Regions from separate parts of the Homo sapiens genome. Here region 1 is linked to region 2. Evidence: fine-mapped expression QTL. Tissue or cell type: gastroesophageal junction. Region 2 holds a variant in brackets; the other region holds the start of a gene. All regions are shown on one strand. Distances are between the middles of the regions.

Evidence for each region. PIP is the estimated chance that this variant, and not a neighbour inherited with it, causes the effect. A credible set is the group of variants that fine-mapping cannot tell apart.
Region 1: LINC01634 starts here. The variant in region 2 is the best candidate, but not a certain one, in a credible set for the expression of LINC01634 in gastroesophageal junction (GTEx, PIP 0.79).

Annotation. Positions count from the first base shown.
Region 1 is chr22:18,027,174-18,031,561 of GRCh38, forward strand. LINC01634 (long intergenic non-protein coding RNA 1634) reads left to right here and starts at 2,212. Exons shown (of 2, transcript NR_024417.1): 1 at 2,212-2,381. RefSeq lists enhancers at 2,192-2,261, 2,302-2,401.
Region 2 is chr22:18,061,699-18,066,086 of GRCh38, forward strand. The region is part of intron 1 of LOC105372853 (a long non-coding RNA gene); the gene reads left to right. Among named protein-coding and RNA genes, the nearest start is that of PEX26, 14 kb to the right of the region's middle. RefSeq lists an enhancer at 1-39 and a silencer at 3,737-3,826. The variant G/A (reference allele first, on the strand shown) is at 2,203.

The DNA.
Region 1 (4,388 bases), 35 kb before region 2:
GATCCTCACGTTTTAATCTCAGCATTTACTGCTGATGGGATGATTGGGTAAATTGAAAAACTTGTCAGAGAGGGTTAGGCTTTGATGGGTGGGGTAGGGGAGACCTCTCAGGAAAAGCAACTAGAGTAATAGAACTGTCAAAGGTTGGCAATAAGGCTGTGTGATCTCGCTGATGGTTCTCCAAGATGAAATGAAACCTAATGCTGCTTTCTTCTTCCTTGAGAGAAGATAGCAAAGAGGGCAGAAGGTGAGGGCTGGGGGCTCAATGTCAACTCTAGAATCTCTTTAAACCTTTTCAGCGTTTGTTTTTTTCCCCACTGAGAAAGTTAAGTGTGATGGGAGGGAATCTAGTCCTTTTGACTATTTTAAAATGTACCTTCTAAAATCAGATCAGGCCAAAAGGTTTTTTACTCTTGAATAAATTTAGGGCTAAAGGCTGTTGGAAAATTAATAGGAGTGGATTCAACGTGGCAATAGATCTTTTATAAATTCTCTTATTGAGTGAATTTCTGAATACTGAAAACAGTGTTTAGCACCTATTGCATTAAAGTGAGTATAAGACTAATACTTTGTATTAGTGACTTTGGCTGGGTGCGGTGGCTCATGCCTGTAATCCTAGCACTTTGGGAGGCCGAGGCGGGTGGATCACGAGGTCAAGAGATCAAGACCATCCTGGCCAACATGGTGAAACCCCATCTCTACTAAAAATACAAAAATTAGCCAGGTGCGGTGGCGTGTGCCTGTAGTTCCAGCTACCCGGGAGGCTGAGACAGGAGAATTGCTTGAACCTGGGAGGAGGAGGCTGCAGTGAGCTGAGATCACACCACTGCATCCCAGCCTAGGCGACACAGTGAGACTCTGTCTCAGAAAAAAAAAAAAGACTAATATTTCATCAAGCAGTTTTAGATAACGTACTGAATTTAGGAACAAATTTACTGCAATTAAATTGACAAAATACCTGTAAATTTTGCAGCTTTTCTCCCCCACAGACTAGCACTATGCAAAAATTGAATGTTTAATTATGAATGAAGGTATCTACCATGTTGTTCACAGAGTTTAATTACCTGAAGACAATGCCTGAGGTTTAAAGTTAAAATACATATATTTGAACATAGAACATTTACTTGACCACTTTATACCATGAGTGAAAGGGGTCAGTCTATGCTTTTTTCCCCTTCCCTGTCTTTTACCAGCTGGCCATTTTATTTGCATAAGGTACACTGAAATTCCTAGAGACCTACGAGGTCATTCTCTGCTCCCTTGCTTTCCTCAGATGAGGAAACAGAGCTCTACAGAGGTTAACTGTCTAGTTCAAGGTCACTCTGCATCTCATTAGTAATCTTGAAGTCTGAAGGCAGGCTGCCTACATTTGTAAATGACAGAAAGCTACCATAGCTAGCTAATCAAAAATAGATGAAAATTTAGTTATAATCTATAGTTGACAGGATAAACATTAAGAATGAGCTTGTAATCCCAGCTACTCCGGAGGCTGAGGCAGAAGGATCCCTTAAGATTAGCAGTTTGATCAGCCTGGGTGACATAGCGAGAACCTGTTATTTTATTTTACTTTTTTAAAGAGTCAGGGTCTCATTCTGTCATCCAGGCTGGAGTGGAGTGCAGTGGTGCAATCATAGCTCTGCAGCCTTGAACTCCTGGCTCAAGGGATCCTCTCACCTCAGCCTCCCGAGTAGCTAGGATTACAGGTGTGCACTAGGACTCCCAGCTCAAGACCCTGTCTCTAGGAAAAAAAAATAGAAATTAGCCAGGTGTGGTGGTGCACAAGAGTGGACCCCTTAAGCCTAGGAGTTTGAGGCTACATTGAGCTATGATTGCATCACTGCACTCCAGCCTGGGCAATGGAGTGGGAGCCTGTCTCTAAAAGAGAAAGAAAGGTCTTCCTAGAGTTTTTGATAGACTAAAACCACTAAGTTCAGATTTAGCATGAATAAATATAATGGCCTGCACTTTTGGTTGAAAATATATATTGCACAGTAGAGGCCTGACTTGTGCATGTGAAACAGAAGATAGGGAGTTAAGTCAACCAACAGGTTCAGTAAGAGCCCCACGTGGGAAGCAGCTGGTGAAACAGCTAATGAAACCTCAGAGCTATATTAGTAGACAGAGAGTAACCTGATGTTTCACGGAGTAACTGGCCCAGGAATCTTGGTGCTGGCCAGGTCATATTTATACCACTCTGTAGCACAAGGTTCCAGGAGGGACCTTGATAAACTAGAGTTCATCCACCAGAGGAGGAGGCTGCAGGCCTTGGGCACTGCTCAGCAGGATGAGGGGCCACTGCAGTTGAGCATGTCTAGCCTGGAGTCTTCTGAAGAACATGATTATTGACTTTATGTATAGGAATGGCTGCCAATGAAGAAGAGGTACGTGGCTTGTTCTATGTCACTCCGCAGGGCAGAAGGAGGATCATTAGGGATAAGGATGAATGGGAGATAGATTTCTGTTCAAAGAATTTTCCAAAATTGCGGACTCACCACAGAATGGTCTGGAAGTCTGCTTAGGGAAATGCTGGGATCCAAGCATCTGAGAGCTTATAGGATATCTACTTTGGGACAGGAGTTGACTCCATGACTTCCAAGTTCCCTTTAACTCAAAGATTCTGTGAGTCTTCATCATGGATCTTTCTTTCTTTATTCCTTCCTTCCTTTCTTTTTCTTTTCTTTCTTTCTTTTTTCTTTCTTCTTTCTTTTTCTTTCTTTCTTCTTTCTCTCTTCTTTCTTCTTTCTTTTTTCTTCTTTTTTTCTCATTTTTCTTCTGTCTCTTTTCTTTCTTTTTTCTTTCTCTCTTCTTTCTCTCTTTCTTTCTTTCACAAAGTCTCACTCTGTTGCCCAGACTGGAGTGCAGTGGTATAATCACAGCTCATTGCAGCCTAGAGCTCTCACCTCAGCTCCCTGGGTAGCTGGGACTACAGGCACATGACGCCACACCTGGCTAATGTGTGGTGTGTGTGTGTGTGTGTGTGTGTGTGTATTTTGTAGAGACAGAGTCTCACAATATTGCCCAGGCTGCTCTCGAACTCCTGGGCTCAAGCAAACCACCCACCTTGGCCTCCCAAAGTGCTGGGATTCCAGGTGTGAGCCACCATGCCCAGTCAGGTTATTTTTCTTGTACTGCTAGTTCATGCCAGTAGAAAAGGTTTTAGTGCTTTTGACCTTCTGATTCCCAAAACGATTCAAATGATTTGTCATTAGAATATGTATCTTAAAAAAGAAACAAATAAAACTCGTAATAAAAAATTGAATCCAGGCCAGACACAGTGGCTCACACCTGTAATCCCAGCACTTTGTGAGGCCGAGGCAGATAGATTGCTTGAGCCCAGGAGTTCAAGACCAATCTGGCAACATGGCAAAACCCCGTCTCTACCAAAAAATTAGCCAGTCTCATAACCAGATCTCAAAAGTAAATAAATAATTGAATCCAGAAGGACTCCTGAGAAAAAGTGAGTTGCTTCAGAATTTGGGCACTGAATTTAAATATAAGCTTTGCTCAAAGTCTGGGCAAAGAGAGAAATGTGTGAAGTTATAGATTCTTACTGTTCAAGAAGAAGAAGATTATACTTTCATCTGTATCAGTATTGACCTTGTCTTCCCAAAGGGATTATAAGATCCTTAACAGCAGGGAACAAATCTTTTACTTCATTTTAACTCCTATCATCATTAGACTATTTTATGCAGATAGGTGCTCAGTGTGTCTTGAATAATTTGACTTTCTTAAAGATGAAATAGGAAAATATTTTTGCTTTATTTTTTTCCTGGAGTCTGATAGAAAGATTAATGGGAGATGGATTTCTTCCAGCCTGCTGAAGCCGGAAGTCACAGTTCTGAAACTACATTATATTATTCCAATGAGGTAGCCTAAACTTGGCCTATAGAAAGCCCCAGGCTGCCATAATTGCATCTACTGGTACCTCTTCCTCTTTGCAGAACAGGTTTCTGTCTTAAATGCATTTGTGTTGCATTTTTTTTTTTTTTGAGATGGAGTTTGGCTCTTGCAGCCAGGCTGGAGTGCAATGGCGCCATCTTGGCTCACTGCAACCTCTGCCTCCCAGGTTCCATTGATTCTTCTGCCTCAGCCTCCCAAGTAGCTGGAACTAGAGGTGGGTGCCACCACGCCCAGCTAATTTTTGTATTTTTAGTAGAGACGGGGTTTCACCATGTTGGCCAGGCTGGTCTCAAACTCCCGACCTCAGGTGATCCACCCACCTCGGCCTCCCAAAGTGCTGGAATTATAGGCATGAGCCACGGCACCCAGCTGTGTTGCATATTATTGCCACTCTAGCACCCTGACTTTCCACTGCAGCTCTTCATTGTACTCAGTAGTAGCAATAACCAACATTAGTATTTTACTTAGAACATTAAGCACTGTTCTAG
Region 2 (4,388 bases):
TGCTTTTTTTTTTTTTTTCTTTTTTTTGAGACAGGGTCTCACTCTGTTGCCCAGACTGGAGTAGTGTGCAGTAGTTCAATAATAGGTACAGCCTCCATCTCCTGGGCTCAAGTGATCCTCCCACCTCAGTCTCTTGAGTAGCTGGGACTACAGGTGCCTGCTACCAGGCCCAGCTAATTTTTGTATTCTTTTTGGTAGAGACAGAGTTCTGCCATGTTTCCCAGGCTGGTCTTGAACTCCTGGGCTCAAGTGTCCCACCTGCCTTGGCCTCTGAAAGTGCTGGGATTACAGGCGTGAGCCACCATGCCTGCTGGTCTCTGCTTTTTGAATGCTGACATGCTGACCTTAGATGTGGGGTAGGGATGATCAGACCAAGTATTCTGAATTATGGACTTGGAATTTGCAAAGTCCAGTGATGAGAAAGAACTTGACTTGTTTTATTTATTTATTTATTTAGAGACAGAGTTTCACTCTTGTCGCCCAGGCTGGAGTGCAATGGCGTGATCTCGGCTGACTGCAACCTCCACCTCCCAAGTTCAAGCGATTCTCCTGCCTCAGCCTCCCAAGTAGCTGGGATTACAGACGTCTACCACCACGTCCGGATAATTGTTGTATTTTCAGTAGAGACGGGTTTCACCATATTGGCCAGGCTGGTCTCAAACTCCTGACCTCAGGTGATCCACCCGCCTTGGCCTCCCAAAGTGTTGGGATTACGGGCGTGAGCCACCGTGCCTGGCCAACTTGTTTAGAAAAGTGGGACTGAGGTTAATATCAGGAGTCTAGAGTTCAAGAGTGGACAGCCAGGCAGGACTGATCTTGTCAAGATTTTGATGTGGTTGGATGATATGATCAACAGATCACAGAGAACCCTAGGGCATTGCAATGCTTAGGCTGGGCCATTTGAGCGCCAGCACCTCGCTATGAAACACACTGAGCTGGAGAGTCAATGATACAAGAGCTTAAGGATTTTATAAAACATGACTACATACAGCACTTCATATTAGTCAATGTTCTTTCACAGTAATGATTGCATTTTATCCTTATAACCCAGCAAGGTCAGTATAGTGGGCATTTCCTTATGCTAATACCTCTGTTCTTCACCACCCCACACCCTTTTCCTTGATAAAGATTCTGGGGATTGGAGAGGAAGTAACTTGTTCTGCACTAACCGGAAAAAGAACCTAGACATTCTGACCCAGCCTAGGGCTCTCTCCACTACTTCAGACGCCTCTTTAGCTCGACTCTCCCCTCCAACCCTGCTTTTTCTGCACAGCCCAGTGAGTTCTTGCTTGCTGAAAGAACCTGGCCCAGCCAGGAAAAAGGACACCGGGAGCTTCACATATGTTTGTCTTCAGAGGCAGCGCTCGTGTGCCACCAACATAAATCTGATAGGCACTGAGATCTCGGTCTTCCCTTTTATTCTGGGGAGGGAATTGTGGAGCTTAGGCTAGACCATCCCTGCCACCGGCCAACTCACTGAATCGGTTCCTCTGGGAGGAGCACTGGGAGTTGGGGTGATGTGGTATAGCCGAATTGATGTCCCATTTCTGGGTTAGGATCTGGCCCTGCCATTTACTAGCTTGTAGTGTCAGGCAAATTTCTTAACTTTTCTGAGCTTCAGTCTAATGGCAATAGCCAGGATTATTGTTAAGATTAAGCCTGCACCATAAGCTTCATTCCTTGAATAGCTAGTGTTACAAATGGTGAGCTGTTAGCCCCAGGGAGTTCGGAAGTCTCTGCGGTTTTATCCGGGGGTCCTGGTATTGCCCGCTCTGAGGATGGGTCAGGCTCTGTGGAGATTCCCCACTTAACCTACCGCATCCTGAACACTGGAGGCTGTTGTTCTGGGATCCAAAGCTGCTCCACTGTTGCCCCAGGGCATCCTGACCTAGTGAATTGCCTCCTTTAGAAGCACTACTTTCCCATCCTCCCAGACTAGCTAATTTACTGCTGATGAAAATAGCTTTAACGGAACTTGGGTCCCAGGAAGGCCACCGCTGGCCTAGAGCATAGAATTCCAGGGCAGAAAGGGATTCCAGGGGTCTCACACTCACTCCCAACTCTGATTCCAAGGAGACAATCCCCACAGTGGAAATCTGTTAAAACACTGAGTAAATCAAGATGGTTCCTGCTAATATCTGACTAACGTTTTCTTCCAGCTGTACGTTCCCAACCTGCCTGAACGAGGCCTCTAGGACGGCA[G/A]CGTCCAATCACATCTCCCCTCTGCTTTCCTAACTGAATGTTGATATTCTCAGCCTATTTTGCTTGTACAAGTCCCGTCTGTCTGCCTGCCTGCCTGCCTGCCTGCCTGCCTTCCTTCCTTCCTTCCTTCCTTCCTTCCTTCCTTCCTTCCTTCCTTCCTTCTTCCTTCCTTCCTTCCTTCTTTCCTTCCCTCCCTCCCTCCCTCCCTCTCTCTTTCTTTTTTTCTTTCGACAGAGTCTCGCTCTGTTGCCCAGGCTGGAGTGCAGTGGCGCAATCTCGGCTCATTGCAAGCTCCGCCTCCTGGGTTCACGCCATTCTCCTGCCTCAGCCTCCTGAGTAGCCTACAGGCGCCCGCCACCACGCCCAGCTAAATTTTTGTATTTTTAGTAGAGACGGGGTTTCACCATGTTAGCCAGGATGGTCTCAATCTCCTGACCTAACGATCCGCCTGCCTCGGCCTCCCACAGTGCTGGGATTACAGGTGTGAGCCACCGCACCCAGCCAAGTCCCGTTTTTCAAACTCAATTTGCTTCTTGCCTCCAGACCCTCTCTGAGGTTTTGTGTTTCCTCTCCCATTCAGGTGGGGGCTGGGGTGGGAGGCGGGCAGAGGCTGATCCAGCAGTTGGAAAGGGTGCAGCCCAGGTTCTCCTAACTCAGGAAGAGAAGGGGGGAAAGGAAGGCCTTATCCAAGGATATAGCACGTTCTCTTTGGTAAACCAGAGAGACACTTTTGTTTTCTTAGCCACAGAGTGCCCAAGGGGAGCCTCAGGGTACAGGGTGGCAGAGGTGGGAATAAGGACTGGGTGGGGGAGGCCAAGGGAGGGCCTAGAGTGCGGGTGCAGGAGTCAACACTCCAGGACGCAGATGTGCTTGATAAGACAGGTGACTGGCCTGGAAGGTTGAGATCACAGCCTTACTTCTTTATTTTACCTCGCTAGTGGAGACCTGGTTACTCACGAGGCCAAGGGATCCTGATCATTCATTCAAGAAATATTCACTGCCTAGCTAGGTAAGGAGTTAGAAATAAAATGCGCAGCAAAGCCCTGCAGGAGTTAATAGTTTGGTGTGGGATTTGCTTCCGTAAGCAGACGGTGAGCAGGCTGCAATGCAGGTAAGTACAGGGTGCCACAGGAAGATAGACAAGTAGCTCGTCACCCACCTGACAGAGGCAAGGAGAGATTTAGGAAAATCTTCCCAGAAGGGGTGATAATTGAGCTAAACTCTGGAGGGTTAAAAGGGGTCAGCCTGTCCAGGAAGCAGAGAGGGGCTTCCAAGAAGAAGGAGTCATTTGCTTAAAGTCCCAGGTTGAGAGAGGGCAGAGTGGGCCAGGACAGTGGCAGGGTGGGCTTTATGACTGCAGCTGTGGGTATGAGGAGGAGACTAGGAGTGAGAAATGAGGCCAGGAAGGCAGGCAGGGGCTGGGTCCTGAGGGACATGGGCAAGCTGCTTCCAGGAGATGGATGAAATGAGCGTGTGCTCCTTGAAGGAGTCTTCCTGGCTGTGCCCACCAACGGGCAGGCAGTGGCGGCCCCCGTCGGTCAAAGCTGTGTCATCGCTCAGAGGCTTGCTAAGCTGCAAGTCATGCAGGTGCAGGCAGAGGCGGGGGCAGGAGGGCAGAGGTTCTTAGCCAGCATGATGGGGCACAGCTATGTAATTCTCGGGTGGTTTGGGGATAGGAGGATTCTTTCCACACACTCTGACGCTGTCACTCCAAAGTCAGGCATTTCTTCACTTGACAATGGGCACCTGTAGGATGGATGGGGCATGGCAGCCATATCTGCAGCTGTATGCCAGTTGCATTTGGTGCAGAGAGCAGAGGGCAACACTGCTCTAAATTCAATGGCTCTGGAAAGGAGGTGGGGTGAGAGGCAGGAGAGGTGATGACATTGGCATGTGGGTCCTGGCTCCTAAATACCGTGGCTCGCTTTACAATCTGCCGGGTCTTGCATGTCCAAGGAAGTACGCAACCTCGATGTGATGGTCTAAGAGAATATTTTATTGCTACTTGCTATTATTGAGAATTGAAAATGGATCTGACTGGGCAGAGAACACACCAATCCCATCACATCATCCCTGCCACCCATACAGCAGTCTGCTGCTCCCTCTTCATACAAAGTCCTTTATCTGTTTGGCTGCTGGGGTTTGAGAGAAGCAGCAGCATGGCAGGGATTGTCATTTGCTTTGAA